2 separate regions of the Homo sapiens genome follow, and region 2 is linked to region 1. The links come from fine-mapping of genetic effects on plasma protein levels. Region 1 holds a variant in brackets. A gene starts in the other region. All regions are shown on their forward strands.

Region 1 (16,174 bases):
TGTTTGCTGTTGCTATTAATGAAGTTCTCTACAAGAAATCTTGTGCTTGTGTGTGTGTGTGTGTGTGTGTGTGTGCATGGTTGCATGGATGTATCACTGATAATAGACCAATATTACAATGTACTGTTGTCTAATTTTCACTGGAAAGCCTTCATGAAGGAAGTAGAATTTAATCTGGGCTTTCAAAGAAAAATTGACATTGATCAGAGAAGAAAAGGGTGAAGGGTTTTCCAGACAGAGACACCTGCATAGACAAAGCACAAAATTGCCTGATATATGGTAACCCATGGAGCCTGACACCTCTGTGAGGGAATTGCCTTAGCCTCTGGCTGTCTTAGAAGTGATGCTTTCTTTTCTAAATGACAGAATAAAGGCTCAGCAGGTGCCACATTTTATATCTCTATTTGAGAAACTCCAGTTTATCTCTTCTGACCACAGCAGTTCAGTCCAAATGGCCACATCATGGACACCCACAACCAAGTCTAATCTGTGTCCCTCCCTGGTGCCCAGATAGATCAGGCTGTAAGAAACCTTCTGGAAAAAAAAAAAACAATTCTGAAGGAAAAACTCTTGACCTTGATCTGCAAACACCTGGGTCACAGTGACGAAGTACGATTTGGGGAACAGCTGGCACCTCCACTTCCTCTCTGAATGTTAAACTTCAACTACTCCTTCAGGCTCCAGATTCAGAGTGCCCCAATTACAGAGATGACTGAAAGTAAAACCGATGTGCGGCATTGGGAGGGTGCTGTGTATGTCCATGCACCAGGACTACTAGAAAGTGGGAGGAGTCTCCTCTGCTCCCACACAGAACGAAGTGTGGCTTCAGGACAGTGGAACATCCAGAACAATCTGAAATATACTCAGGGAGGCACCAAGAAACTAGCATTATTAGGGGAAAAAAAGGACAAAAGCCAAGCACCAGCCCAGCATCTCTAGGGACAGTAGCAGGCACACCAGCAGGGACTAAGCAATGCCAGCAGCCAGCAAGGGTGCAGCAGAGACAGCAGCCCTCCAGGAGCACCAGGAGCACCAACTGGCAGCAGGCACCATGGTGATGTTATAGGATCTTTGGGGTATTGTTTTTCTGGCCAGAAACCCATGGCCAGAGGCATCTTTGCCCAAGTTTTGCTCAGGCCCATTTGGGCTTGTTTTGACCACTTGGCTTGGCAGGCTGTGCTTGGCTCATGCTACTGGCCTGGGTCTCATGCCTCCCAAGAGAAAGTCAAGCATGGAATGGCGTGGGGAATGTGAGTGAGCATGGGGCCCAGCCACTGTGCACAGTCAGACATGCCAGCTGCTGCAGCAGGGCAGGCAGCTCCAGGTGCCAGCATGGATGCCGGCTCTGTGAGGCTGCAGCTGGACCAGGTGCACCACAAGCAGCTTCCATGACTGGAACAAGTGGTGCCTGGAAGCTTGCAGATGCCAGGAACCACAGGCCCTCAAAGAGGGAGTCACAGCCCTGGATCCAGGAGCTCCCAGGTCTTGGAGGGGCACAGTTTTTTTTTTTCCTTATCTTCACCCACAATGTGGTGAGCAAGGGGCATGTCTCAGCCCTGTTTGTGACACAGCTCTTTTAACCTCACCATTTGGTGAATCCCAAGTTCTTGTCCTGTGGCCAGGAAGAATGACGTATGCAGACAAATTAAGGGAGAGCAAGACAATGAGGAGCTTTATTGAACAATAGAAAAGCTCAGAGGACACCCTCAGGGGAAGCTCCTTTCCACAGCCAGGGCATGCCAATGAGTGTTTAGCTCCTAGAAGAGAGGTTATCTCCTCTCTGCTAGGCAATTTGTCCCAACAGGTGTCCAGCTATCAGCAGATAGGGTAGCTGCTCCTCTCTGAAGCTGATCATCCCATTGTCTGCACAACTCTCAGCAGAGAGGAGGCCCTGGAGTGGGTTGCTCCTCTCTGCAGTTGATCATTCTGACTTCTGCTCAGCTCTGGCTGAGCCCGGGGCTTTTATGGGCCTCAGAGGGGAGGAAGAGCACATCCATTTGTCCATGGTTGGCTATGAGTGGGCCCAGAAAAGACACCTCAAGTTCCTACTTTGATCTGTGGGACTGGCAGCATGGCCCCCAGCTTTCAGGTCCTCCCTGGCCTGAAGGTTGGGCTTCACCAGGAAACCTCCCACTTCTGCCCAGGAACCTGTCTGCCTTCTGCTGCTATTTATGGTGCCCAGGCTGTAGGTGCCAAGGGATGCCTGTGGGCTGGTGCTGAACTGCCATCAGCTCCCCCTAGGGTTCCCTCCTATGCTTTTTGGTGCCCAAAGTCCAGAGGGGGCCAAGGTGGCAGGGTGCTGGCATGTCAGCATTGCCCTGAGCATGTATGTACCCAGCCGGGCCATGACAGTGCCCAGGCGTGGCCCCCACTTTGCTCCAAGGTCAGAGCCAGTGCCAATAGCAGGGAGAAGCCAGACAGCAGGAGCAGGTACTTCTAAGCCTGCAAGAGTGGGGGTGCCTTCCAGGGCCCCCAAGAGTGCAGAGATGCCTGAGTCTTTAGCCACAGTCTGGATGGCTGCAGCTGTGCCAGTGGGGCAGGGCTTCTGCCTGCTCTATGGAGCAGGAGGCCCAAGTCTGCAGCTGTGGTTTGGGCAGCTGCAACTATACCCAGGAGGGTGGGGTTCCTGCCTGCTCCCAGGCCCCAAGAGCACAAGGATGCCCAGGTCTGCAGCCATGGCTTGGGCAGCGGCAGCAACACCCAGGGAGTTCCCTCCCCAACTCAGAAGGGTGGGGCTCCCGCTTATCACCAGCTTCTGCCAGCTCCCACCGGCTCCATGGAGCATGCAGCTCTGACTGTGTCTCTCTGCTGCAGCTGAAGTAATGGCAGTGGTTGCTCCAGATGGCCTGCCACTGCCATCAGTGAGAAGCTCGCTGGGCTCAGTGGACACTGGAGGGCCCAGCAGTAGGTGTGGCCAGAGGAGAGAAACTGGCAATACCAGTGGTATTTGAGGACTTAGTCCTTCCTTTGGGTATTCTGAATAACCCAGGAGGTGAGGACACAGAGTTCTAAAAATCCTTCTGGTGTGAGTGACAGCCAGAATATGAGTAATTATTGTTATTTATTAATATTATTTAATAATGAAGAAGAATATTCTCATCCATTTACTTATTCAACAAATGCTCATTGAGCATCCACCAGTGCCAGACACTATGCTGAGCACTGGGAACATGTTGGTGGATGAAAGAGACACAACCCTTTCCTTCATTAATGTACAGACCAGTGGGAAAGACAGACACTAACCAAAAAAAAAAAAAAAAAAAAAAAAAAAAACAAAGAAATGAGCAACTAATCACAAATAGATGATGTCAAGTTACAGAAAAATTAACCAAGATGTGCAAGATGTGGTAATGGAGAATAAAGAAGAAGGGGTGTCTACTTAGACTGAATGGAGAGGATCTATCCAAAAGGCGACATTTTAGATTAATTATGAAACACTGAAAAGCAGCCATCATGAAAACCTCAGGGGAAAGAGAATTCCAGGAGGCCTTCAGGTGGGAAAGATGCATTTCAGGATTGCCAACATGGCTGGCAACAGGGAGTGGCCATTTTACCTACAGGCTGGTATAACCTAGAGAAGAAAAGAATGCAATGAAATACTAACAATGTCCCTCTAATAACAATGGCAACTCCCACTTATGCAGTCCTTTCTGTTTCACAATGCATTTCCTATTTACTTTTTCAGTTCCCAGTCCACACTCCTGTAAATGATAAAGCCAAGGCTAATGTATCCATTCATATGAGACAACTGAGGGCTGTAAAATGTGACTTACCCAAAACATAATGGTGGAGATGCCAGGCAGTTGACTTGGGTCTCTAAAATTTCAGTCCTTACTCTTCCCCAAGTCTTGTTGCCTTGACTCACTGGGGTCATAATTTGATGACACAGGTCCCACATTTTAATCCTTGCCTTCAATAAGTCATGGGATGCCCATGCAAGCCACAGCTCCTTGGTGGAGACTCTTACCTCTGGACAAACAGGACCTGTGAAAAGCTCCTGTCTCCTACTCTGGATACTTCCTGTAAACAGGACTCATTTTCAGTGTGACTCTAATAATCAAGAAAATAAATTAGATCCCAGAATCTCTCTCACTTTGGATAATAGCTCGTTCCAGGAAGTCATTAATGCAGTAAATCAAACTCACAACTGTTGACACCATGAAAGCACATTGTTTACCTTCCTTTGATTCAGCTGAGTATCAATTAGCTCAGTGATATTTACATAAATATCTCGATTTAGAGGGTGGAATTGTCCATCTGCTTCTGGAAAGATTTAATTAGGTCTGTGTTGCTAGAGAAGAAATTAATCCTTTTCAACATTAACCTTTTCAACTAATATATGTTTTGCGTGTATTGTGTAACATGCCTTGTTATGTAAATTGGACAAACTGAAATATTTCAGGCTGGTGAAATGATGTCTTTTAAACTGAAAATATATCTCTCTTTCCAAATCTTGAATGCAAGTGCATCGTTTTGTGCTTTCATATATACAGTCCTTCTTGGTGAGGGTTCTTTCAATCCAACGTCTTGAAGGCTTGTCTTCAACGTTGTATATGCTCTCCAGTCTGCAGAGGATATTGGTGGCATTCTCTGAACCTCACTCCTGCTGGGCCTCTCACCTTCACATTTTCTTCCTCGAGCTGTGAGTCTTTCCTGGGATCCCTGAGTAAGATCAGGACCCCACGTCATTTGTGTCCTTTTCCATAAGGGAACTCCTCACTTGAAGTGGCTCTTTTATGTGTGTCTTACCCACAGAAGTGACCACTCTAGGAATATAAAGATCGTGGATTCCTTGTCTGCTGCCATTTGCCTTGTGCCTAGCAAATTGCACATTTCATAAAAGACTCTCACTAAATGTATGTTGAAGGAATGAATGAGCAAAACCAGAATCATCAGGTAACAGTTTCACTGTGATCTTACAGCTCACCACCCAGCTCACAGAAGCAAACATTTTGTTAAAGGTATGGATATTATTAATACAAAAGTCAAAATGGGTTTAAATGTAAAGCATCCTCCCTTCCTTTTATCTACACTGACATGAACAGGTGCTCCTGCTTCCAGATTATCCCCTTTCATGAACCCTGTACAGCCAGGTGAGCTCACTGAGGACTCTTATTTTGCTCAATCCAAGCCCTGCAAGGTCTTACTGTTCAAGAAAAAGGTCTCTTCATCTTCATTGCTTGAAATCTTCATCTCTTCTCCGTTGTCTATGATCAAGTGTTTCTCACTTCTTAGAAGCTTTCCATGAGATCCAAATGTTTTCATATAACTTCTCAAAAGCCTCCACTCAATCCAAGGTAGGTAGGATACTCGTAATAATCATAGTCACCACTTATCAGATCCCTACTCTATACCAGGCACTTCTCTGGATCCTTCCTACATAAATCCCTAAGCTTACAAAACACTGAAATTTAGGCATCACTGCCCATGTTTCCAGGTGGCAAAACAAAGACTAAGAGAGGAATGTGATTGCCCAGTCACACAGCAAGTAGGGTAGAGCCTGGATTTTTAAACTCAGATCTATCTACCTCAACAGCCTTTGTCTGCCCTTAGAGCATCCTGTCTTCAGGGTCCCTGCGAACCAAAGCACCAGTGCTGAGTAAAGCATTAGGTCTTCGGTTACAACTCTGTTAACCCAACTGACCAGGATTAAAATGGCTCAGAATAGGTGATCTCAAAAGATGTGACTCTGTTTGCATCATTGCCTCTATAATAAATCAACCCTCTGTAAATTGGTTAACAAAATATGGACATATAAAGCAAACAAAGATCAGTAAACTTCTTCTGTGAGGAACCAGATAGTAAATATTTTTGGCTTTGTAGGCCATACAATCTCTGTCGTGACTTCTTAACTCTGCCACCGTAGAATGCAGCCATAGACAAAACATAATGAATGGATACAATTCTGTTACAATACAACTGTATTTACAATAGGAGGCAGGATAAATTTGGCCCACTGATTTGCTAACCTCTGAAACAATGGGAAGGTAGATGGTGTTTTTTTACCACTCTACATTAAGAATACAATTTAATCCTCATGTTAATGTTTTAAAGGAGGTTGAGTATTGTAGGGAGACCCCCTGAAACTATTGCTATGGAATAAAAGATGAAATGCTCCTGATTATTGTAAATACAAAATTGCATGCAGGATTGTGTAAAGATAACGCCAGGTTGGACTGCCAGAACGAGCCAACAGCACGTGATGTGCTTCCCCCTGCAGAGAGCCTATGACTGGACGTGCAGTCAGGAAAGTTTCGCATCACCAAGATTCCTATCCCAGAAAAGCAGATGTTCATAGCTCTGGGAATGGAATGCGACCCTTGTGGAGAGCCTATAAGTGGACGCATGGAGGGAGCCTGTCCATATGGATAAGATAGGGCTATAAACGCCCTCATTTTGCCGCGGCTCTTCTAGGCCTCTTTAGGGTTAATGCATACTCCCTTCTGAGAATTTCTGGTCTGACCAGTTGTCTAGCTGCACGTCCTGTTTCCATGGATTATTTGTAACCAGCTTTTGTTGCAATTGTTACTGCTGATTAATATCTTGCTAATCATAGGTTATGGAAAGACTGTGTTTCTGTTCTAAGGCTCTGTTAGAAATTACTGATGGGCATACAATATTGTAAATTCTTATCTCTGTATACTGTACTTCTACATACAAATGTACTGTACTTCCACATACAAATGTTATGTTAAAGAATTACTTCATCCCCATGTGACCATCTCACCTCATAATCAAATGACCCTAAATCCCTCACTAACCTACCCCTGCCCTCACTAAACTTAATAATAAATGCTGGTATATCCAGTGCATTGTTGGCACCGCGGGACCAGAAGGCGGTGACCCCCCGCCGGACCCAGCTTTCACTATCTTGTGTGTGTCTATTATTTCTCAACCTGCCGATCTGCCTGGGAACAAAGAGAGAGCCCCGTTGCATTGCAGGCTGCCGGCCAGATCCCACAATATCTCTGGCCAGATCCCGCAATAGAGTATTATCTCCATTTTAAAGACAAGAAAATTGAAGTCCCAGAGGACAAAGAGGTTGAGGTCCAAGGTTACACAGCTATTAAATGTGCATCTACAACCCCTGGGCACAAGAAGGTCTTCAGCTTCTCAGTCTGGGTTGTTGCTATTATTTGTTTGTTTCATTGTTTTTTCCTTTAAACTGAGAATAGCTTTAAATTGATATTGTGTCAGAATCCATAGCCCTTCAACTTCCCAATCTTCAAAGTGTCCCCTTTCCTTCTCCAAGCCCTTTCGCCTATGGTGAGGGCAGGAGATAGTAACCTGTTATACAAAGGTATAACAACCACTTTCTCTAAGAAAGTGACAAAGGTAACGTGTAATACAAAGGTAAAGCAACACTTTCTCTAAGAAAGTGACAAATGACAGCTCCAGGCAGAAAGGAACTGCCTGGCACGTAGCACGTGATCAATAGTTCCATATTGAATGATTTAAGTGGATGAGTGAAATTGACAGAACATGAATTTTGTTGCCTTGGGTTATGGCAAATTATTAGACAATTAATGGGACTTTGGGTCAGACCTACCTCCTCAAAGTCCTGATCTTACCACTTATTAAACAAATAACCTAGGAAAAGTTACTTAGCATTGGTGAACCTCAGTTTCCTCATCTGTAAGAACACCAACAATGCTAGTACCACTTTAATAAGTTGTTATGAGGATTAAATAAAATAATTCATGTAAGATACTTAACTCCTAACTCAACAAGTGGCATCAATGTGAAGGCTATGTTTGGCACTGTTACTTACTGCATTTGCATTCTGAGCTCTCACTGGCTTCTATATCCATCATTTCCCATCCTAGAGATAAGAACCATGAACACTGGTTAAGGATACTAGGTATAATATATTAAATCACTAAATATGTTTGTGTGAGAATAGCTGTATCTATCACCAAATGCATCCTCAAAGACCAAAATTCTAACTTTAAAAATCTCAGTAAAAAATTATGCCAATATTGGAATTAAAAGAATGCAAAAAGATGGACGCATACCAACGTAGAGACAAAAGGGGAACATTAACAAATACAAACAGTTTTATTTACCTGGCATGATGAGATATGTTTTTTCCATTTTTTGTTTGTTTTTATGTTAGCCACAAGGTTACTTATGAAATAAGAAAAAGTAACGAAGAAAAAATTCAATGAAATTACATTTAAAAGCCAATGATAGCAGGAAAAACTTTGCCGTGTTCTAAAAACTGAAATTACTTTTGTTAACCTAAGCATTCATGAGATCACAGCTTCGTTAACTTGACTACAGAGTTTTTTAGTTACTTTTTCTTAAAAATCTCATGAATTTCTGCTTTACTGCTTGAGATCCATACAACAGACTACTTGGCTGGTTTCCTTTTACTTGCCTCCCATGTTTATTACTGATTCCCATTCAACAGCAGAACAGTGAAACAATAGGGCTATTCATAGGAAACACTGATGATTATTTTTATGAATTACGTGTGTCCCGTCAGATGAACTCCATTAGAACTTCCCAGAACAGTACAGATGGAAGGTTCTCAGGCCCAAGGTCATCCACTTGTTATTCCAAATAACCAGGCACCTCATTGACAATTAAGCAACACGCCTTGAGATTTCTAAGAGTTCTCTTGTTTCACAAAATTTCTTATTCCCACAAAGACCTTTAGAGA[A/G]GTATTCTACGTCATTCCCCTTTGGCCCCAGTACTTACTTGTTCCCAAAACAGCATCCTATATGCAGTCAGCAAAGCTGGGTTTGCATCTACTTCTGCCGTTTATTAACCATGTGACCTTGGATAAAACGCTTAATTTCTCTCAGTTTTAATTATGTTAACAGCCCTATCCACCTCCCCAATATCAAGTATATAACATTTTTCTACCATAATTCTATTTTTTCCTAAAACACAAACTGAGCACTTACTAGGTACCAGACCTTCTGATAGGTATTTAGGACCCGAAAAGGAAAGACACAGGATCTGTATCATTAGAGAAGACAGACACACAGATGATAAAAGTATAGGACACTGTGAGACCGCAGTGGGCATGTTGTGGGGTGGGGCACCCATCCATCCTCAGGGCATAAAAGGCTTCAAAAGACGTGATATTTCCATTCACTCTTGGATAAGAGGGACGGAGACAGGAAGGACAGTCTAATTAGTGGAAAGAGCATGGGGAAAGATACCACCACGTCAACAAGGCCAGCACATCTGGGGAAATGTGCTGCGACTCATCAGGGCTGGAGTCCAAGGGAGCATGAGGGGAGGAGGCAGGCAGGATAAATATAAAACTAGAAGGGAAACAATCACATTGATTATTGAGAATTTGTTGGTAACACTAATTAAAATAATCCTTAACATCATTGAGCTTTTGTTCCTGATTAGGTATTCCACAAATTCTTACATTCTCATTTATATCATTACCACAATCCTATGAGGTAGGTGCCATGACTATTTCCATCTTTCAGATGAACCAACAGAGGCCTAGAGGGTTTAAGCACAACAGATGACCAATTCAGGACTCTAACTCAGTTCTGTCTGATGCCACAGTCTCTGCTACTCCTAACCAATGAGTTCTCCTGCCCCAGCTGAGGGTCTGGGATTTATTGCATGGTCAGTGAGGGCCTGTGTTGGATAGACTATAGGGGGACCCCATGACCCCCACCTCTTGGTAGTTGCCTATGTAATTCCTCCTATGTAATCATCTCTCTTGAATATAGGTTGGCCTAATGACCTTTCTCTAACTGACGGATTACAGAAAAAGCAATGAAATATCAATTTCATAATAGAAAACTGTGATGTCCCTCTTGCTAGTAGGCTCTTCCTTGTTGACTGTGATGAAGTAAGAGACCATGTTGGAAAGCCCCATGAGGCAAAGAACTGAGGGCAGTTTCCACTTAACAACAATGAACATAATCTCTCAAACAGCTCTCCGAAAGCCGAATGTTGCCAACAATTTGAGTGAACTTGGAAGTAGGCCCCTCCCCCGTCAACTTTTTAGTGGAGACCCAGCCCTGGACAACTTGACTGAAGACTTGTGAGAGACCCTGACACAGGGGTCTCTAGAAAAGCAGTGTCCAGGTTCCTGCCTCACATAACGGTGAGATGATGAACATGAGCTGTTTTAAGTCACTAATTTGTAATGATTTGTGACACAGCAATCTATAAATAGCACAGAAACTTTGAAGGGTTTAAGCATAGGAATGATAAAAAATTGATCTATGTTTTATAAAGTCAGTTTTGTCATCAGGGCACAGAGTAGATTAGAGGAAGATAAGGAGGAGAGATTGGCTAAGAGGCTATTTCAAGGCAAGACATGATGGTGACCTAAATTAAGGCAGCGACAAAGGGAAGGGAGGAAGAATAGGGGAAGTTACAGAAGAGATATTGGAGGTAGATTCAGCAGGACATTAGATCCAACTTGATATATGGAAAAAGGGGAAGGGAGGGAGCATTGAGTTTAAACACAATGGGAGTCACTGCATCAGCTTCACCCAGAGTTGTAGACCTTACTGCTGTCAGCAGCTACTTGGAGCAGCAGCCTGACCTTCATCAATACCAACAACAGAGGATCCACTGAACACCTATATGGGACAAGGGAATTTCTTAGGCCATTTGGGTACCAAATTCTAAAAGCCTCATGCTGAGAAAATTTGACACTCTTTAAGACCACAATAAGAGAATCATCCTCTTTGAAATTCAGCCCAGACAGGAGTCTTGGCATCAGGACACTACATCTAAATGCCCCCTCAATGAAGCAGTTCACTTTGGAGAGAACCAGAGGCAAGTAAATGGTATCTTCGAAGGTGAAGATGCACCAAGTGCCTCCATTCCAGGAGGACATGCAGCTGAGAGGATGGCTTCATGATCTTAGCCATTCACTAAATTGTGTTGCCTCCTTACTATTGCAACTTCTTTACTCAAAGCAACCATGCTTATGGCTATGCAGAATTAATAGACCAAAATGAGGTAAGATCATTGAAAAGGGAAAGGAACTTTTTACCTGACACCTGATCCTAACATGGTATAAGAACGGAACTTCAGAAAAGTTGAAATGTAATAGAATAGCTGGCATTTTTTCTGTTTTAAACTTTAGTACTAGCAAAGGGCCATCGTAAGCATCAGCTGACTTTATCCTTATGACACCACTTTGGAGTAAGTATTATCTATATCTTGCACATGAGAAAACTGAGTCTCAAAAAGATTTAAGTTTCCTTATGAATATTATTTTGCAGGGTGAATTATGCCTCCCTTACCACCAAAAAAAATTATCTGTCAAAGTCTTAACTTCCAGTATCTCAGATTGTGGCCATATTTGGAGATGGGGTCATTAAAGAGGTAATTAAGTTAAAATGAGGTCATTACAGTGGGCCGTAATCCAATCTGACTGTTGTCATTATTACTAAGACAGACACAGAAAGAAGGAAGACAATGTGATGACGTGAAGACACAAGGAGAAGACAGCCATCTACAAACCAAGGAAAGAGGACTTGGAAGAAATCAATCAATGTCAAAACCTTGATTTCAGACCTCTGCCCTCCAGAATTGTTAGAAAATAAATGTCTGTTGTTTAAACCACCCATGTGTGGTACTTTGTTATGGCAGCCCCAGCAAACTACTATAATTACAAAGCAATTAGGCTCTGAAACCAATCAAAGTACATCTCTGCCCATCAAAAATCCACCCAATTCTTCTATTAGAATCAAACATCAGCATTGGGGTGCAAAAAGGTACTGGTGGCTGGTCCCAAAACCCTAAATAGTACTGACCAATGAATTTCACCTTTGTAACCACTCAGCTTAGAATTGACAGCTGAGGGTCAGGACAGGACCCTAGAGCAGCAATACTTGAAGCATGGTCCCAGCATCACGCAGGAGCTTATTAGAAATTCAAACTCTCAGAGCTCACACCAGAATCTTTCATCTTGGTGCTCAGAAATAGATGTTTTAACAAGCTCTCTAGCTGAATCTTACATATCCTAAATTTTGAGAAGCCCTGGGCTGGCAGAAAGGTGTGTAAATAGTGTAATGTCCTCCTGCACCTCTGACTAACACTATGTGTTGGAGGTGGCCAGAGAGGGGCATGGGAGATGTCTTCTGAGGGGTGCTCAAGGCCGCAGTGATGAGGAAAGGATAAACACCTTATTTAGCAACAAATATTTATTGAGCATTTACTATGTTCCAGGAACTATGCAATATGCTGAGGAAGTAGAAAAAGACCAGACCCTCAAGTTTACAGTCTTACAGGTCATATCAAGTAAGGAGTGGAGGAGACAGGAGAGAGAGTGGCAAGGCCAGCAACTTCGAGGGTTAGGAGAGTTGACCACCCGGCCTGCAGAGTGCCCCCATGTGGTCCAGATGAGAGGTGCTGGGGGAGAAGTTGAGGTTCTTTCAGGCAATACCAAGGGCCCCTGCCTGGAGCAGCCCAGCCTACAGGTGCCAGGTTCATTACCCCAAGTCCACCAGTGGCTATAGCACCATGGCGGTGTTCTAATGAAAAATACCCTATCTCCATCACCTTTAAAGCCACCTTCCGGTGGTAGTCTTTCCAGATCTCCTCTATCATAGGTACTTCTCTACTTCCTCAGTATTTTGATGTATTGTCTTTAGTTTGCACTCCCTCTGAAGCAGACCCTAAGATAGAAATTTGGTACAGGTGCCTTATTTGGGAGAAATTTGGTACAGGAGTCCTATTTGGGAGATGATTCCAGCAAGCATGGTGCATGAGTGGTGAGGAGAGACAGTGATGAAAGGAAAGCTAATAAGGCTAGGGTAATGAGAAGGTCACCACTGTGAGCCACTGGGACTCAGTCCCACAGGGGACCCTCTGAGAGATTGCAAAGCACAGTTCAGAAGTGGACTCTCCAAAGGCAAGGAAACTGGAGTCCTTACCTAGCTCCTCTCCTCCCTCATGGGCTGAGAACTGCTTCAGGGCTTTAACCTTCCTCTCTTCCAACCTGTCCTGCACATGGACAAAGCATCCTCCTATGGGCCAAGGGACTCATGATGCCACAGACTGGGAAAGAAGGGTCTGCAGATGACCTCAGGGAAGCAGAGGGTGTCCACCAACAGTTATCCTACAAGACGCTTCACCAGAGCAGCTCTTATAGAACCACATACATGCATCTTGTATCTGAGCCCTGCAATATTGTCCCCACCAAGAAAATCTGCCATTCTCTCCTGTTCATGAGCCTCAAGTTGGGCAAAATATAGTGCTCTCTATTGGTTTCTTCAACCATCCTGTCTTATGGAATAAAGTATGTGTCTTCCAATGAGGCATGCAGTGGTAAAACACACAGAGGTACTATGATTCCAGGCAACAGCAAAGAAATGATGTTTCCATTCTCCTGCACAATGCTATTATGGTTAAATATAAGAAGATGTTGGTTAGGATTTTAAAATACTGAAAATTACTAGTGGATTCCAACCATTGCCTACAAAGACTCGCTAATGGTCTGTGGAAACATTGCAATCTCCTGGGGCACAGGGACCCTGTCTCGTTCCTCACTGCCTCCCCGGCACCCACAGCAGTGCCCACACAGAAGGGAAACACCCTGTCTGTGTGTAGTTTGCTGACTGAGATAGGCTTCCAAAGCTTTAAAGGGCTTTGGGTGTGCTTCATTCCACATAAGTCTAATTTCACTTAAAAATTCTGAGAGTTTCAAACAGACATGTTAAAAATTCACGCTTTCATTCACTTTTAATGAGAACTTTCTTTTTTCAAGAATCATCTGCAGGCTGCCTTACAAGTAATTCCACAGCCATCTGGAAGACTTGTGTTGCTACTTAGAAGTGCTAAAAGGGATATATAAGGAGGCTGGCTCCCGACAAAATTGGAAATGAGGGGAAGCTCGCTTCAGCAACACATGCCTCCCCTCCCTGCCTCCCGTGAGTGCCCAGAATCCTGGACACAGCCTACACACACGCCTCCAAGTCACACACATGTTTCAGAGATTTAAGTCACTGCTCTTCCCACAAATATATTTTGTTTTACCGAGAACACTAGAGGATGAAATACTTATTTTGCAAGAACAGTTCAATAATGGGAGCATTTCAGGCATCATGATTCCAGACAGGAAAGATAGCCAAGGACAAAATAATCTGTCCAGGTCTCTAGAAATCATAAGACATCAGCCAACTGCATCCATTCATAAGAGCAATGCTGGTTCCCAGTAACCCCGTTCAGTACACATCCTCAGAGCATTTTACTAGGTGTCAGGAACTGAAGAAATGAAAATGAGAAATCCATGACCCTACACATAAGAAGCACATACTCCAGGGGCATAGAAAGCTCATCACTCAGACATCCAAGTGTGCTGGGGAAAGAAATAATTACCTAGCTACAGATACATACTGAACTGTCTATTATAAGCATGGTGCTGTGGGAGGCCAGAAGAGAACACCTCAAGCTCTGCTGGGATGTCCGAGGAGTCTGGTGAAGCAGATAACAGTCAGGCTAAGCCTGAAGACCACAGGAGCACAGCAACAGGAGAGAAGGTAGAGAAAGCATCATTGACTCTACAGCTGCAAACCAGACAAGCAAAAGACTCGAAGGGAGGAATTGCAGGGCAGTTTGGAAGGACAGAGAATTGTGCCCAGTAGTTGGGTTCATCAGGATGAAAATTTAAAGGACCTCTGGTGGCTATTCTAGACAGGAAATTTAGTTTAGTAGTTAAGAGCTGATATTCCAGAAACAGACTACCATGGTTCAAAGTCCAGCTCAGCAATCCATCAACTATGTGACGCTAAGGAATCAACTTAACTCTTCTTTGCTCCAGTTTTCTCATCTTTAAAATGGGGTTTATAAGAGGCATTCTTTCTAAGATTGCTATGATGTTTAAATGAGCTAATGCATTTAAAGCACTTACGTTATGCCATGACATTGTTAGTTATCATTGCTATTATAAAGAATGTGGACAACAAAGGCAGTGCTTTGTTTCTGGTATCTGGAAAACTGGTATGTATGTATTTAGTTATTCATTCAACCAACAATCATTAAGGGTGGATGAGAGCCAAACACAGGTAGATGTGTCTCTTGCCCTCTAGAGGCTCATGGTCCCATCGCAGGAATACAAGCCTCGTTGGGTTATTATCAACGTCTGCAGAGGACAGTGGGAGGGCAAGCACAAAGCAAGGAATAAACTGGCTTGAAGTAGTCTGGAAAGGCTTTGATGTGAGCCTTGGTTTGTGGGCTGAGCTGTAGGATGTCCACATCCAAGTGTTTGTCCTACCAAGTGGGACCCTGTAACAACAGAACAGGGTGGGTCCCCTGTGAGCCCGGAATGAGCATGGAGATGGGTTAGGAAGGGATCCTGGTTGCTTGTCATCTCATATTTACCTGAAACACACCACGGCAGCAGAAGCAGCTGGTGAAAGCCCAAGGCCTTTCTGATTGGACAGTGCTGGTGCCAACACAGTGCTGGTGGAATATTTGGACTGGACTTCTGAAATTCTTGGATGAAGAGTCATGGGCACAGAACTCACAGGGTTCTGGGGAAAAGGGGAAATGGAAGAGAATTCATGCTATTCTATAACGCCAGGAAACTCTATCTGAAGGCACAAATAAGGCCCTGTGAGCAGAAAACATAAAAAAAGCTACAAGAAGAGATTGCTGAGTGGGGTGGGAGGGCCTAGGTTGCCATGCTAAGCAGAGTGTGAGTTTGTTAAGTTCCATTGATGTGATCAATGCTTATGCAAGCCTGTCATGCTCAGTTCAACACACATGTCCGCAGTGCTAGAAAAGCCACCTGCTATGAAGGATCCCAAAATTACAATCAGGAAAAAGACTCTACACTTTTGTTTGAGAATATTACAATCCAATCATATTAGATAAACGTATCAAGCTTCTAAGCTTTATTTCTTAATCACTGTGGGAGGTGGGGGTGGCAGGTGGTTGGAGGCACATAACTGAAGGAGATGAAAAAGAATGGAGGAAAAGTGCAGCATATTTGTGTATGTCTTGACTCCCTCAATTAAGTGGAAAGTTCCCATGGCTGAGAATTATGTTTTACATTCCTAATTGCCCCTCCCTGGCTCCTACCATGAGACTGAGTGCATAGTAGGTCCTTAAATCTGCTTCCTGAGTTTAAGATGCAAAATTCCCCTCTATGCAGAAGCCTGGATTTTGCACACAAACAGCTCTAAAGATAAAGCTGATATTAGTTTGCTGCAAATAGTATGCATGTTCC
Region 2 (14,863 bases), not on the chromosome of region 1:
TGGACAGACCAGGGTTTTTCCTCCTTCCTTCCATATCTGTCTCAAGGCAGCATTTCTACAGCACTGCGTTGTGGACTGAGGTCTCAGGGCAGTGTGGTGGTCTCTCTGTCTCAGGAGTCCCTCCATTCAGTCTCTGGGCAGGAGCCGCATAATAAGATTCCACACACCCATACCACTCACGAAGGCCATGGGCCTTCCAGGGATCTCGGATCCCAGGCTGTTCTTCCTTGGGGGAGTGGCCTGGTTCTAAAACCAGGCCTTGAACTACATCTACAAAACATCTATTGTGGATTATTTATTATCCAAGGGGCAAGCCACTGTGCTAGACGGCTTGCAAGGCCTGCTATTGTAGAAGGTTATGAAACAAGTCAGTTTTAACGAACTTCTTTTTCTTCACCTGTACCTAGTTTCTTCCTCAGTCCTTAAAGCAGATGGAAGAGTTAAAGCCCACGTGGAGCAAATGACACTCTGTTTCTGATCTGATTCTCCCCGCCTCTTAGAGACGCTGTCTTGGTAGTGACCTGGCTGTGGGTTGTTCTGTGACTGTGTAGACCTACCTCAAAAGAGGGAAGAGGGGGGAAAAAGGGGCGAGGAGGAGATGCTTGGGTGGCCAGGCCATTGCTGGCACTCAGTCTATCTCAGTTCGTACACTGTGTTAGGTGTGACCCCAGCCCCTTGCAGGCACCCTGGGCTTCCTGCTCCAGTTCCCCTTGTTCGGCTCGGATGCACCGGGAGGCTGCTGCGCCCTCTCCGGACAGGTGCCCCGGGCCTCGCCTACACCTCACCTCCCCCTCCCACTGTACCCCCGGCCGGTGCGCGCTCTGACACTCACCGGCTGCGAGAGGCAGCGGCGACGGCGGCAGCAGCAGCAGCAACATCAGGACTACGGGCGGCAGCGGTCGCGGGTTCAGGGGGCGCACCATGGCGAGCTGTAGGCGCCGGGCTCCGCGCTCCCCTCGCTCCTCCCCTGGAGCTCTGAGAGCGGGGCTCCCTCGACCGGCACCTCCCGCCCCCGCCTCCCGCCCTCCAGCGCGACGCACACACTCTCCCACCAGGGTCCTGGGCGCCGCCCTCCAACTCCGAAGCGCGCGTCCACACCACGCGCCTCCAGCGCTGGTCCGAGGGACCGCGGGGGTGGGGGCGGGGGAGGGCCGGCGCCCCGGGAGCCGCCGGGCTTGGTGCGGAAGAGGTTGCTCTTTCCGAGGCGGCCCACCTGCTGTCTGACAAGTTCGACTAGCAAGACATTGTGGAAGCTGCCGCTGGAAACTCGCCATCTAGGAGAACCAAATATTTCTCCAAGAAAAGCACCCTTTCTCACTTTCTGGATCCCACTCACCCACACATCAAAGAACAGACACCACCACAAAAGAGATTTTGTAACAAAACTTGAACAAGCCAACACAAGGGCACTTGCATTTCTAGTATTTTTCTTAGAATTTGCACATCTATGATCTCGTTTTTTCCTCTCCTAAGTGTCTTCTAGGGTAAGATTGGGTGGTTATTAAGCTCAAGATGCTGCAAAGATGGGTCGCAGACAGGTGGAATGGCTTTGCTGGGGGAGCAGACCTGGGGCATTAGATTCCAAAATTCAGCCCCGATGGTGTCGTGAGGGAAGATGGAAGATTAAACTCTCCACTAAATAGCAGAGATTTCCTTGGACCAAAGCTCACTGAGGAAGGTGCCTGGAGAGACCATTTAGGAGCCCATCCTTTTCACATGATGAGACTTTCGGAGAGCAAGCTACTCTATCAGGATTAAACAACTAGGTAGAAACACATCTGTGCCCAGAACACAGGACGTCTACCCATAAGGATAAGGGTATTTATTGGGCCTGGGCCTGATTCCCACAAGATCCCAGGATAAAGCCAGAAGCAGAATGGCTTGGAAGAATGAGAACTAAGCAGCGCATAGAAAGAGAGAAGGAGAAGAGGGTGATGAAAGGAAGTGGAGGGTTTCATCCCCTAACCCTCTAACTTGACCCCCTCCTTACTTCCACAGCCAGCCTGGCAGAGGGCCAGCAGGGAGTACTGAGAATCGCAATATAAACCTCTGAGATTTATTGGCTGCTGCTTCTGAATATGGCCATCCTGCTGTGGCCTCTGGGGGGCATTTGCCGATGTAATCAGCCCAGAAAGAGAGTCATTCCAGCTGGGGGTGTAAATCACCCTTGGCAAAGCTAGGAGAGAGACATGTGGCCCTAGATAAGGAAGGAGACTGATGTGGCCTCTGTGCCCTTCCCTCCCTTCTCCTGCCCAGGGGGTGCTGGTTCCTGAGCTGTAATGCACTTTAAATGGAGTTTGTCCTTCGTTTTAATCTATATCTGCCCTGCCAGTTTTACAGAAGAGCTGTAAAAGTGAACATCTGGCTACTCAGCTTTTGTACAAGGCCTGTTTTCCCCCAGCTCCACCCTATCTCCATGTGCCTTTCCCAAGCCCTCCTCTCCAGAAAGGTGAGGGAACATGAAGCTGGGGGGCTACCATTAAAGGCCCCATGATGTCAGGCCCTCTACCCCATTGCCAGAGAGAAATATGCTCCAGGCACCTCATTTTCTCTCACACCTGCTATTACAGGCAGACAATCGTTTTTTGGGTTTTTTTTTTTGAAACTGACAATACTTAAGAAAGGAATTTATAAAGCAAAATGTAACAATTTCAGGCTCTTTGGGATGATAGGAAAGGGCTGAGACCCATGAACCAACAAAGATGTGAGGTGGTCAAGGGGTGTCTCCTCTGCCCTCCCCCTCCTCCAGCCCAAGCCAAATCATGTTATGGGCAGGAAGAGGGTTTGGGAAAGGAAGTTTGCTCAGGGTGCCTACTCTGATAGATACTCAGTGTCTATTCCAGGGCTGTCCCCACAGAATAGACCAAGAATGCAGTATCAAGCTGACGGGCTGGGAGCAATGACCAATCCCACCTGTAACAGGCCAGCCTTTTCATGAGAGAAAATAAAGTGTCTGGTGCATATTTCTGTCTGGGTACAGGGGTGGAGAGCCTCATATCATTGGGCCTTTAATGAGGATTGGAGAAGCTCTGCAAATAAATATGACTCCAAGACTAATATTGACAGCCCTCCAGCACACCCTCTCCACCAACCATGTCCTCTGTGACTGCCAACACCTGCTAGATAAGCAGCATTGCCCCTTGTGGACAATGACAAATGAGCCAGTCCTTTCTACAGAGATGATGTTACTCATCCATCATTCAATTCAATAATGTGTTTTGAGAATGATTATGAGCCCAGCTTTATGCTAGGTGCAAAATGATTAAGACACAAATCCTGCTCGGGGAGGGTGTTACAATCCACTGATTGCAACTCAAATGCCCAAAGACCCTGTATCTTATTCCACTTTCACTTGTAATCTCAATTTTCTCCTCTTATGGTCAGATTACATGGATTCTACCTTCTCTCAAGTCCTCTCTCTCTCCATTGAGCTTTAATTCCTGCTGCTATCCTAATCCAGGATGTTAGCAGTATAATAAATAGTTAAGACCACAAGCTTTACAGACTGCCTAGATTCAAATGCCGACACTAGCTGGATGACCTTGGGCAAGTCACTTAATTTTTCTGTGCTTCCATTTCTTCACCTGTAAAATTAAGGATAATAGTATCTATTTCACATTGTGAGGATTAAATGAGTATAGTATTTAAATGAAGGTGTAGGCTGGGCGCGGTGGCTCACGCCTGTAATCCCAGCACTTTGGGAGGCCAAGGTGGGCGGATCACGAGGTCAGGAGTTCAAGACCAGCCTGGCCAATATGATGAAACCCCATCTCTACTAAAATTACAAAGATTAGCCGGGCATGGTGGCACATGCCTGTATTCCCAGCTACTCGGGAGGCTCAGTGGGGCAGAAGAATTGCTTGAACCCAGGAGGCGGAGGTTGCAGTGAGCCAAGATCATGCTATTGCACTCCAGCCTGGGCAGTAGAGCGAGACTCCGACTCAAAAAAAAAAAAAGAAAAGAAAAAAAAAGGTGTAGCATTATACCTGGCATATAGCAAGCATCGAATAAATATCATCCCAGGTAGCATGCAGGAGTTAATTATTCTGTGTGTGAACTTGGCCAGACCCCACCACCCGACCTGCTGATTTGGAGCTGGAAGTGGCACTTTTTGCTCCTTTTGCTGAATATACTACTAGACCAGAGTGCTTGTAGGGATGGAAACAAAAAGAGCCATTTTTTATTTTTCTACCTTGTCAATTTCTTGAGGGCAGGGACTGTGTCATATTTTAACAACTGTGATACTCAGAATTGGCAACTCCAGATGCATATGTTTAAAGGAATTGGTGTTTCCTTAACCTATGCCTGAACAGAACAGGGAGAGAATCCCCCATGCCTCCTACTTTATACTCCTGATAAAGAAAGGGAAATATTCCTCCTTAATATAGTTTGGATATTTGTCCCCACCCAAATCTCATGATGAAATGTAATCCCTAATGTTGGAGGTGGGGCCTGGTGGAGGTGTCTGGATCATGGGGGTGGATCCTTCATGAATGGCTTGGGCCATTCTCTTGGGGATAAGTGAGCTGTCACTGAGTTCACAAGAGATCCAGTCATTTAAAAGTGTGTGGCACCTCCTCCCATAACTCCCTCCCTCTCTTGCTCCTGCTCTGGATATGTGACATGTCTGCTTCTCCTTCACCTTCTGACATGATTGTAAGCTTCCAGAGGCCTACCCAGGAGCTGAGCAGATGCCAACACCATGCTTCCCATAAAGCCTGCAGAACCATGAGCTAATTAAGCTTCTTTTCCTTATAAATTGTTCAGTCTCCCAGGCAAGCATGGTGGTCAGCCAGGCATGGTGGTGTCGGCCTGTAGTCCCAGCTACTTGGGAGGCTAAGGCAGAGGTTGCAGTGAGCCAAGATCATGCCACCACACTATAGCCTGGGTGACACAGTGAGACCCTGTCTCCAAAAAAAAAAAAAAGCCGGGCGCGGTGGCTCACGCCTGTAATCCCAGCACTTTGGGAGGCCGAGATGGGCGGATCATGAGGTCAGGAGATTGAGACCATCCTGGCTAACACGGTGAAACCCCATCTCTACTAAAAATGAAAAAAAAAAATTAGCCTGACGTGGTGGCGGGCACCTGTAGTCCCAGCTACTCGGGAGGCTGAGGCAGGAGAATGGCATGAACCCAGGAGGCAGAGCTTGCAGTGAGCTGAGATCATGCCACTGCACTCCAGCAGGGGTGACAGAGCAAGACTCTGTCTCAAAAAAAAAAAAAATTACCCAGTCTCAGGTATTTTTTTTCTTTTTCTTTCTTCCTTTTTTTTTTTTTTTTTTTGAGACAGGGTCTCACTCTACTGCCCAGGCTGGAGCACAGTGGTGCAATCATGGCTCACCACAGCCTCAACTTCACATGCTCTAGTGATCCTCCCACTTCAGCCTCTCAAGTAGGTGGGACTACAGGTGCACACCACCACACCTGGCTAATTTTTAAAAATTATTCGTAGAAGGCCAGACGCAGTGGCTCATGCCTGTAATCCCAGCACTTTGAGAAGCCAAGGCAGGTGGATCACCTGAGGTCAGGAGTTTGGGACTAGCTTGACCAACATGGTGAAACCCTGTCTCTATTAAAAATACAAAAAAATTAGCCAGGCATGGTGGCAGGCGCCTGTAATCCCAGCTACTTGGGAGGCTGAGACAGGAGAATCACTTGAACCCGGGAGGCGGAGGTTGCAGTAAGCCAAGATTGTGCCATTGCACTCCAGCCTGGGCAACAAGAGCAAAACTCCATTTTTTTTTTTTGAGACGGAGTTTCGCTCTTGTTGCCCAGGCTGGAGTGCAACGGCGCGATCTCGGCTCACTGCAACCTCCGCCTCCCAGCTCTCAGGTTCAAGTGATTCTCCTGTCTCAGCCTCCCAGGTAGCTGGGATTACAGGCACATGCCACCATGCCCGGCTAATTTTTGTATTTTTAGTAGAGATGGGGTTTCATCATATTGGTCAGGCTGGTCTCGAACTCCTGACCTCAGGTGAGCCGCCCGCCTTGGCCTCCCAAAGTGCTGGGATTACAGGCGTGAGCCACCGCACCCAGCGAAACTCCATCTTAAAAAAAAAAAATTCTTCGTAAAGACAGGGTTTCACCATGTTGCCCAGATGGTCTCAAACTCCTAGGCTCAAGTGATCCTCCAGCCTCAGTTTCCCAGTGTTAGGATTACAGGGTATTTCTTTATAGCAAAGGAAGAATGGCTTAATACATTCCCTTCTCTATGGCAGAGGTCACCCAGGTCCTGGGCTGAGATTGACAAGAAGCAATTGCAAAAAAAAAATTTATGTATATTTTTTGAGACAGAGTCTCCCTCTGTCACTTAGGTTGGAGTGCAGTGGTGCAATCTCAGCTCACTGCAACCTCCACCTCCCGGGTTCAAGCAATCCTCCCACCTCAGCCTCCTGAGTAGCTGGGACTACAGACATGCACCACTGCACCTGGCTAATTCTTAAATTTTCTGTAGAGACAGAGGTCTGACTATATTGCCCAGGCTGGTCTCAAACTCCTGGATTCAAGCAATCCTCCCACCTCAGCCTCCCAAAGTACTGGGATTATAGGCTTAAGCCACCGCACCTAGCCCAAGAAGCAGGTTTTTGTTTGTTTTTGATACAGAGTCTTGCTGTTGTCACCCAGGCTGGAGTGCAATGGTGTGATCTTAGCTCACTGCAACCTCCACCTCCCAGGTTCAAGTGATTCTCCTGCCTCAGCCTCCTGGTAGCTGGAATTACAGGTGCCTGCCACTACTCCTGGCTAATTTTTTTTTTTTTTTTTTTTGAGACAGAGTCTCCGTCACCAGGCTGGAGTGCAGTGGCCCAATCTTGGCTCACTGCAACCTCCACTTCCTGGGTTCAAGCACTTCTCCTGCCTCAGCCTCCCGAGTAGCTGGGTATTTTTAATAAAGACGGGGTTTCACCATGTTGGCCAGGATGGTCTCGATCTCCTGACCTCGTGATCTGCCCACCTTGGCCTCCCAAAGTGCTGGGATTACAGGTGTGAGCCATCATGCCTGGCCTGTTTGTATTTTTAGTAGAGATGGGGTTTCACCACATTGGCCAGGCTCCTCTCAAACTCTTGACCTCAGGTGATCCACCCTCCTCAGGCTCCCAAAGTGTTGGGATTATAGGCATGAGCCACAGCGCCCAGCCTCGAGAAGCAGTTTTTAGCTCAAAACATTTCTGTTCAATATTTCTTTACCTCCTGATGAATAAATACCAGTGCAAGGACACCAATGCCGAGCACACCCCCTACATAGCCTCATACTGAGGTCTCTGGGCTGGGGTTTTAGTGCCTGCTCATATCCTTATCTCTCAAGCCAAAGCAACCCTTATGGCCCTAAATTCTCAAGAGCTTACCATTGAGGCTCTTATAGATTTAACACCCAATACAGGGCCAACTCTGGAAAGGCACAGTGGTTTTTTTTTTTTAGACAGGGTCTTGCTGTCATCCAGGCTAGAGTATAGTGGATGGATCATAGTTCAATGCAACCTCAACCTCCTGGGCTGAAGCCATCCTCCTGCCTGACCCTCCCCAGTAGCTATGACTACAAGTGTGCACCACCATGCCCAGCTAAGTTGATTTTTATTCTATAGAGATGGGGTCTTGCTATGTTGCCCAGGCTGGTCTTAAACTCCTGGTCTCAAGGGATCCTCCCACTTTGGCCTCTTAAAGTGCTAGGATTACAGATGTGAGTCACTGCACCTGGCCAGGCACACTGTTCTTTGATGAAGGTTTGGTAACAGCAAAATCCATGAAGTGGACAGGCTCTGGAGCCATACTGTCTTGGGTCAAATCCCTACTCCACCATTAATTAGCTTTGAGATCTTATTACTTGACTAGGTGCAGTGGCTCACGCCTGTAATCTCAGCACTTTGGGAGGCTCCAATTGAAGACTAGAGCTCAGATTGCCTCCATGAAAGTTAGAAGGGAGAGGGCTGGGTGCGGTGGCTCACAACTGTAATCCCAGCACTTTGGGAGGCTGAGGCCGATGGATCATGAGGCCAGGAGTTCGAGACCAGCCTGGCCAACATGGTGAAACCCCTTCTCTACTAAAGATACAAAAAATTAGCCGGGCATGGTGGTACATGCCAGTAGTCCCAGCTACTCAGGAGGCTGAGGCAGAATCGCTTGAACCTGGGAGGCAGAGGTTGCAGTGAGCCGAGATCGCGCCACTACACTCCAGGTTGTTAACAGAGCGAGACTGTGTCTCCAAAAAAAAAAAAAAAATTCAAATTAGAAAAAAAAATGCAGGCCAGGCGCGGTGGCTCACGCCTGTAATCCCAGCACTTTGGGAGGCCGAGGTGGGCGGATCATGAGGTCAGGAGATCAAGACCATCCTGGCTAACATGGTGAAACCCCGTCTTAACTAAAAAATAAAAAAAAAATTAGCCGGGCATGGTGGTGGGTGCCTGTAGTCCCAGCTACTCGGGAGGCTGAGGCAGGAGAATGGTGTGAACCCAGGAGGCGGAGCTTACAGTGAGCCGAGTTCACGCCACTGCACTCCAGCCTGGGCGACAGAGTGAGACTCCGTCTCAAAAAAAAAAAAAAAAAAAAAGAAAAGAAAAAAATACAAAAATTATCCAGGTGTGGTGGCAGATGCCTGTAGTCCCAGCTACTTGGGAAGCTGAGGTGAGAGGATTGCTTGAGCCTAGGAGGTGGAAGTTTCAGTGAGCTGAGATTGTACCACTGCACTCCAGCCTGGGCAACAAGTGAGACCCTGTCTCAAAAAAAAATAAAATAAAATAAAAAAGAGTTAATCCCTCTGTTCCTCAATTTCTTTATCTTCATAAAGAAATGCTCATAATAATGAATACCTCTTTCACAGGCTTGTGAAAATTAAATTAGTGTGTATTTATATAGGAGTTTATATATATATATATATATATATATATATATATATATATATATGAGTTTAGAGATAGCCTTGTATACAGTAAGCACCTGAAAAATGTTAGCTACTATTGTTATTCCTGAAAATAACATGAATCAAATCATATAGTCCCTATACAATGAGAGGATATTACAAGAAATCAGTGGGCTTATATTAGGCCAGGCGTGGTGGCTCACGCCTGTAATCCCAGCACTTTGGGAGGCCGATGTGGGTGGATCACGAGGTCAGGAGTTCAAGACTAGCCTGACCAACATGGTGAAACCCTGTCTCTACTAAAAATACAAAAATTAGCCAGGCGTGGTGGTGCATGCCTGTAATCCCAGCTACTCGGGAGGCTGAGGCAGGAGAATTGCTTGAACCCGGGAGGTGGAGGTTGCAGTGAGCTGAGATCGCGCCACTGCACTTCAGCCTGGTGACAGAGCAAGACTCTGTCTCAAATAAAATAAAATAAAATAAAAAATACCAAAAAATGTTGACTTGGGTGAAAATACAATTTTCCATGAGGAAGATAATTAAGCCTTAGTGTTTTGTTTTGCAACTCAGATTTTCCACTTAAGACTACTGACTAGTGGGCACATGTACATCAATCTCTATCTATGTTGGGACTTGGTTCTAGCCTTCTGGGGAGAATTATCAGGAAATGGAAATGACCCACTAGGGTAGGCAGTGAGTTAAGGACCTCTCCTCACACTTCGAAGAGGTGCTTCAAGCAGTTTTCTTTTCTGGCTACTAGGAATTCCTATAGGGGCACGTGTGTGGGTGGGGCAGAGGAGCAGCATCTTTCCTTTGGCCATCTCCACCTAACGTAGCAGCAGCTTTTCTCTTTCCCCTAGACCTTCTGGGCTTTGAGTTCAAGGGATTAGGGAGAAGGCCACAGAGACAGCTTCCTTTTTGACAGACAGGCAGTAGCTAGGAATGGAAGCTACAGACTTCAGCAGGATGGCTTGGAGAAAACAGCAGTGCCCTCTGCTGTGAAGCATGCATGTGACACTCTAGGGCAAGAGCATGTGCAAACCTTGTCAAATAAAAAAATTAAAAGCCAGTCCAACCACTCAGGCACGTGCATGGGCCGCCCTATGGCTACAACCCCCCTTCCCTCCCACTCACTTTAAAAAAGTGTCTCTGTTCCAGAGCCTGGGAAGAGGGTATGTTTGTCTCTGTTCTGTCTCAGCCTAGGCTGTAGAGGGCTTCGTCCTGTTCCGTCCTGGGCTATCAGTCCTACTAGGTTAATACCAGAGAATGACAATGTTCAGTCAGTTCTACTGCCACCCAAGACCAAGTAGTGCCACACCTTACTACAGATAAAGGCCTATTCATATTAAAAAGCTCCAAGAAAGGAAACCCTGGCATACTGCAGAAGAGTACAGTTAAAAAATCTTCCTGAAGTCTAATGGATCTTGCTTTGTTTTATTCCTATCTTCATATATCACAAATCTCTACTTCCAACCATCCTAAATCCTAAAACTTGTCTTTGTGAGACGTGAAATGGAGTGGAGAAAAGACTTAAAAGTCAAAACCCCCCTAAGGCTATAGATAGGGAACTTTTTTTTTTTTTTTTTGAGATGGAGTCTTGCTTTGACACCCAGGCCGGAGTGCAGTGAAAAATCTTGTTCACTGCAACATCTGCCTCCCAAGTTGAAGTGATTATCCTGCCTCAGTCTCCCGAATAGCTGGGATTACAGGCAGCCACCACGATGCCTGGCTAATTTTTGTATTTTTAGTATAGACGAGGTTTTGCCATGTTAGCCAGGGTGGTCTTGAACTCCTGACCTCAGGTGTTCCGCCAGCCTCAGCCTCCCAAAGTGCTGGGATTACAGGTGTGAGCCACTGCCAAGAGGGAACCTTTGAGCCCAGCTGAGATCTGTCATTTGCCTTAGAGAATGTCTAGATACCACATGCTGCTGAGTCTGTGGTGCACTTTTAGTAACGCATACCATGGAATGATCTAGGAAAGGAAAGCCCAGGACATTGCTGAAGAAAACTGTTTGAAAGGCTTACCTTAATTCCAGAGCATTGGTTCATTTTTTTTTTGAGATGGAGTCTTACTCTGTTGCCCAGGCTAGAGTGCAGTGGATTTTGGCTCACTGCAACCTCCACCTCCTGAGTTCATGCAATTCTCCTGCCTCAGCCACCCTAGTAGCTGGGATTACAGGTGTGTGCCACCATGCCTGGTTAATTTTTGTATTTTTTTTAGTAGAGATGGGGTTTCACCATGTTGGTCAGGCTGGTCTCGAACTTCTGACGTCAAGTGATCTGCCTGCCTTGGCCTCCCAAAGTGCTGGGATTACTGAGCACTGGTTCTTAAGCCTTACCATGTATTAGAATTAACTGAAAAGGGAGATTTTTAAAACCCAGATTTCTGTGCCCTAACCTCACAAGTTCTGATTTAAGAGGTCTGGGGTGAGGCCTGAACATCTGTATTTCAAACAAGTTCAGATGATGTTGATGATCTAGGGTCCAAACTTTGAGAATTACTGGTTGTTTGGTATTTGTTTTTTGAGACAGTCTCTCTCTGTTGCCCAGGCTGGAGTGCGGTGGCACGATCTCATTGCAACCTTCACCTCCTGAGTTCAAGCGATTCTCCTGCATCAGCTTCCTGAGTAGCTGGGACTACAGGCACACGCCACCATGCCTGGCTAATTTTTGTATTTTTAGTAGAGATAGGGTCTCACCATGTTGGCCTCGAACTCCTGACCTGAAGTGATCCACCCGCCTCGGCCTCCCAAAGTGCCAGGATTACAGGTGTGAGCCACGGCCTAAGAATTACTGGTTTAGAGAAAAGCATGTTGGCCTCAGCTATGAATAAAGATAGTATGTCTGAAGTAGTCTAACTTGGTGATCTCCTCTGTAGACAGATCTTCTAGGAGCAGGCTAGGCTCACAATCACACCTCTCATTCTGTAGTGTTTATTTTTCCATTTTTAAAAAAGAAAGAGGGGGAAACAAAGAAGGAAAATACAAAGAAAGAAGGTAGACAACGCTCTTGCATAGCCCGAAGCCCAGAGAGAAAGAGTTGGCTGGCTTGTGAGAAGACATGAGGAGTTGGGAAAAGGAATGCCAGAGTTCCCTGAACCAATACAAATCTCTATGCAACTCAAGGCTGCCTTATAGAGCCAGCTCCAGGACTCTGCCACCAGCTTTCAGCTCTGCTGAAACCTAATCCATTCCCAGGCCTGGATACAAGTTGGTAGCCTGTTGGTTTGCAGAGACATCTTTTAATAATCTTGGGTTTGGCCATCCAGAAGGCCTCTTTCTGCTCAGGGTTTCTGCAGTGTCTTTTGGTGACTTGTTAGCAGCCAGTGGCTGGAATGTTATCATGGGCTCATGTCCTTCACCAGAAGGGCAATCTGCTCCCGCAGCTGCCGCTCCCCTTCCTGCACTTTGCTCTGGCTTCGACACCTCAGCAACTCAGTCTTGTGGTCCTGATGATGCATAGGGCAGTAGCTCTGTGGTTCACACAGTTCCTGAAAGGTAAGGAACAGAGTAAGGGATTCTCTAGACTCCTGAACTCTACCTATGAAGGATAATAGAGATGCTGCTGCTGGCAGTGGCTAAGGAGGAGCAGCAGTTTCTTCTCTGAAGGCTTTGCAGGCCCTGGGAGTTGAGTTGTTAAAGTTTGGCTCCCCGCATGCCCCACCCTTTACCATATATTCTGGAAAGAAGTCTCTGTAGCCGCCTTTAAGGATATATAGCTCTGGGTAGTACAATGCAGGATACTGGTTCAGAGACCTGTCCTCTTCACGCAGACAGCGGCACCTTTAGAGAGAACCCAGAGATGGGTGGGGTGGAAAGAAACAAGGTCAGGATCCCAGGGGCCATTCACTGGGGAGGGGGGAGAGGAGTAGACTATTGCCAACCTCAAAAAGGACTTTCCAATCTCCCTGTGTTTGCAAAAAAAGGTCCAAGTAGTACCACCCTTCCTCCTTTCCTCCACTGCAGCCTCATTCTCAATCCCTTTTCCTTTATTGTTTCAAACTTTTCAATTTTAGAAACGTCTTCCTTCAACCTCCCTAACATTCTTCAAACTGTAGAATCCAGTCAGTCTCTGTCTGAACTGGTGTGGGAAGTCCAACTCAAAATCCATTTCCATCACCCGCCAGACCCCATTTAGACACTCACATTCGGGGGCCCCTCTCTGAGGAGAATTCACAGTGGAACACGATGATTATTCTCTTCTGGGTGTCCAAAGGGACGATGGGCTTCTTCAGAAAGAAGTTAAACAGTTCTTCCTGACTATATAAGTTTAAGGCTCCCTGTAGAAGAAGAATTTTAGTAAGTATTTCCTCAGGGGCTTATAGACAGTGCCAATACTTAGAAATGACTGAGACGCCAACCTGGGATAATGTGGACCAGAAAAGCTGGACTATAAGCACCTTTAGGGCAGGGGTCTAAGTATATCTCTGTATATACCCTGAACGCCTGGCATAGAGCTTGTAGATGGTCAATAAATGTTTATAGACCTGAACCACTGGAAGTATAGAGATCACTGCGAGGAATGTTCATGAATAGTAAGTGTTTGCAAAGTGCTTCAGTCCTTGGATTAATGTTTTTATTTCTAGGTAGGACCCCTTGGCTCCTACAGAAAAGAGGGAGATAGATCTAGGAGGGAAAGGGAAAGTAACCTGCTTAAGGTATACAGAATTAAAACAATGAGGACCTCAGCCTTGAGGTGCTTCAAATATGTAATCTTTGTCCTGACTCTAGAGTTCATAGACCCCTTTGTCCACAGACTCTTCTCAATAAAGAGTTATCTCCAGCCCTCCCCTACTAATGGCCACAATGTCGTCTCACCTGGATGTGTCCTCCCAGATACTCATATGGATAGCGACAATCAATGACATAAAACTTCTCAATCAGACCCTGGAACTTCCCCGACAGTAAGGCAGCCACCTGGACAGAAACAATGACTGAATATTCTGCTCACTGCCACTCTGAGGGAGAGAAGGGTCAATGACACAGTTCCTTACAAGCATACTCCTGTTCTGTCCACTGTATGTCCAGCCTCCAAAGTCACCCCATATTTGATATGTGGCAATGATTCAGCCCCACTCCACAAAAGAGAATGAAACAGGAAGTGGCCCTTTTAGAGAACCAAAATAGCTGGCACTGACAAGATACCAAGGAAAACCATATTCAGGCTACCCATCTGGGGATAGGCATGGCTGGACTCAGGAGATGCCCAAGGACTTCTGCAGTGGCAGAGGCAGCAGCTAGAGAGCTTGAAATTGCAGGAAGAAATGCAAAATGGTTCCCTACCCACCATCAAAAAGGAAGAAAGTAAGTCTTTCAGGAAAGGATATGGAAGGGAAAGGTTGATACCTAAAGGAAGGAAGAAACTGAAGCTACTTGTAGGAGTGCAAATTGGTTCAGCCTTTCTGAAGGGAACTTTGTAAATACATATACAAATAAATGTAATCACACTTTGACTCAGCAATTTCTAACATCTTAAGTAAACAGGAAAAGTACACAAAGATGTAGGCACAATTATATTCATCTCAGCATTGTTTTATATTATCAATATATTAGAAATAACTTCAATATTCAATAATAGGGGTTTGGTAAAATAAATTGTACATGTCAGTAGAATAGAGCGGCATTATATAGCCATTAAAATGATAATATAGATACCTTATTGATATAGAAAGATGTCTATAATGTCTCACTAAGCAAATTGCAATACTATACGTTCATCATGATCCTTTTTTTTTGTTTTTTGAGATGGAATTTCGCCCTTGTTGCCCAGGCTGGAGTACAATGGTGCCATCTTGGCTCACCGCAACCTCTGCCTCCCGGGTTCAAGCAATTCTCCTGCCTCAGCCTCCCGAGTAGCTGGGATTACAGGCATGCGCTACCACACCCAGCTAATTTTATATTTTTAGTAGAGACGGGGTTTCTCCATGTTGGTCAGACTCGTCTCGAACTCCCAACCTCAGGTGATTCGCCTGCCTTGGCCTCTCAAAGTGCTGGGATTACAGGTGTGAGCTGTG

Direction of the effects. Alleles are on the strand shown, and positions count from the first base shown. The strength of an association depends on the size of the effect and on how common the allele is.
For the plasma level of the protein whose gene starts at base 1,120 in region 2, A is the high allele of the variant in region 1 and G is the other (weak association).

The links. A credible set is the group of variants that fine-mapping cannot tell apart. PIP is the posterior inclusion probability: the model's chance that the variant is causal. The UK Biobank Pharma Proteomics Project read protein levels with antibody pairs (Olink). The fine-mapping took linkage between variants from a reference panel, not from the people measured, so its PIPs are less certain.
Region 2: GFRA3 starts here. The variant in region 1 is the best candidate, but not a certain one, in a credible set for the plasma level of the GFRA3 protein (UK Biobank, PIP 0.60).

Annotation. Positions count from the first base shown.
Region 1 is chr8:134,282,048-134,298,221 of GRCh38, forward strand. No RefSeq gene overlaps it. Among named protein-coding and RNA genes, the nearest start is that of ZFAT, 420 kb to the right of the region's middle. The variant A/G (reference allele first, on the strand shown) is at 8,666.
Region 2 is chr5:138,273,502-138,288,364 of GRCh38, forward strand. GFRA3 (GDNF family receptor alpha 3) reads right to left here and starts at 1,120. Exons shown (of 8, transcript NM_001496.4): 1 at 833-1,120. The coding sequence starts at 923. It overlaps CDC25C (cell division cycle 25C), which reads right to left. Exons shown (of 14, transcript NM_001790.5): 11 at 13,668-13,766; 12 at 12,996-13,129; 13 at 12,521-12,632; 14 at 11,768-12,340. The coding sequence ends at 12,191. RefSeq lists silencers at 843-1,032, 1,123-1,212.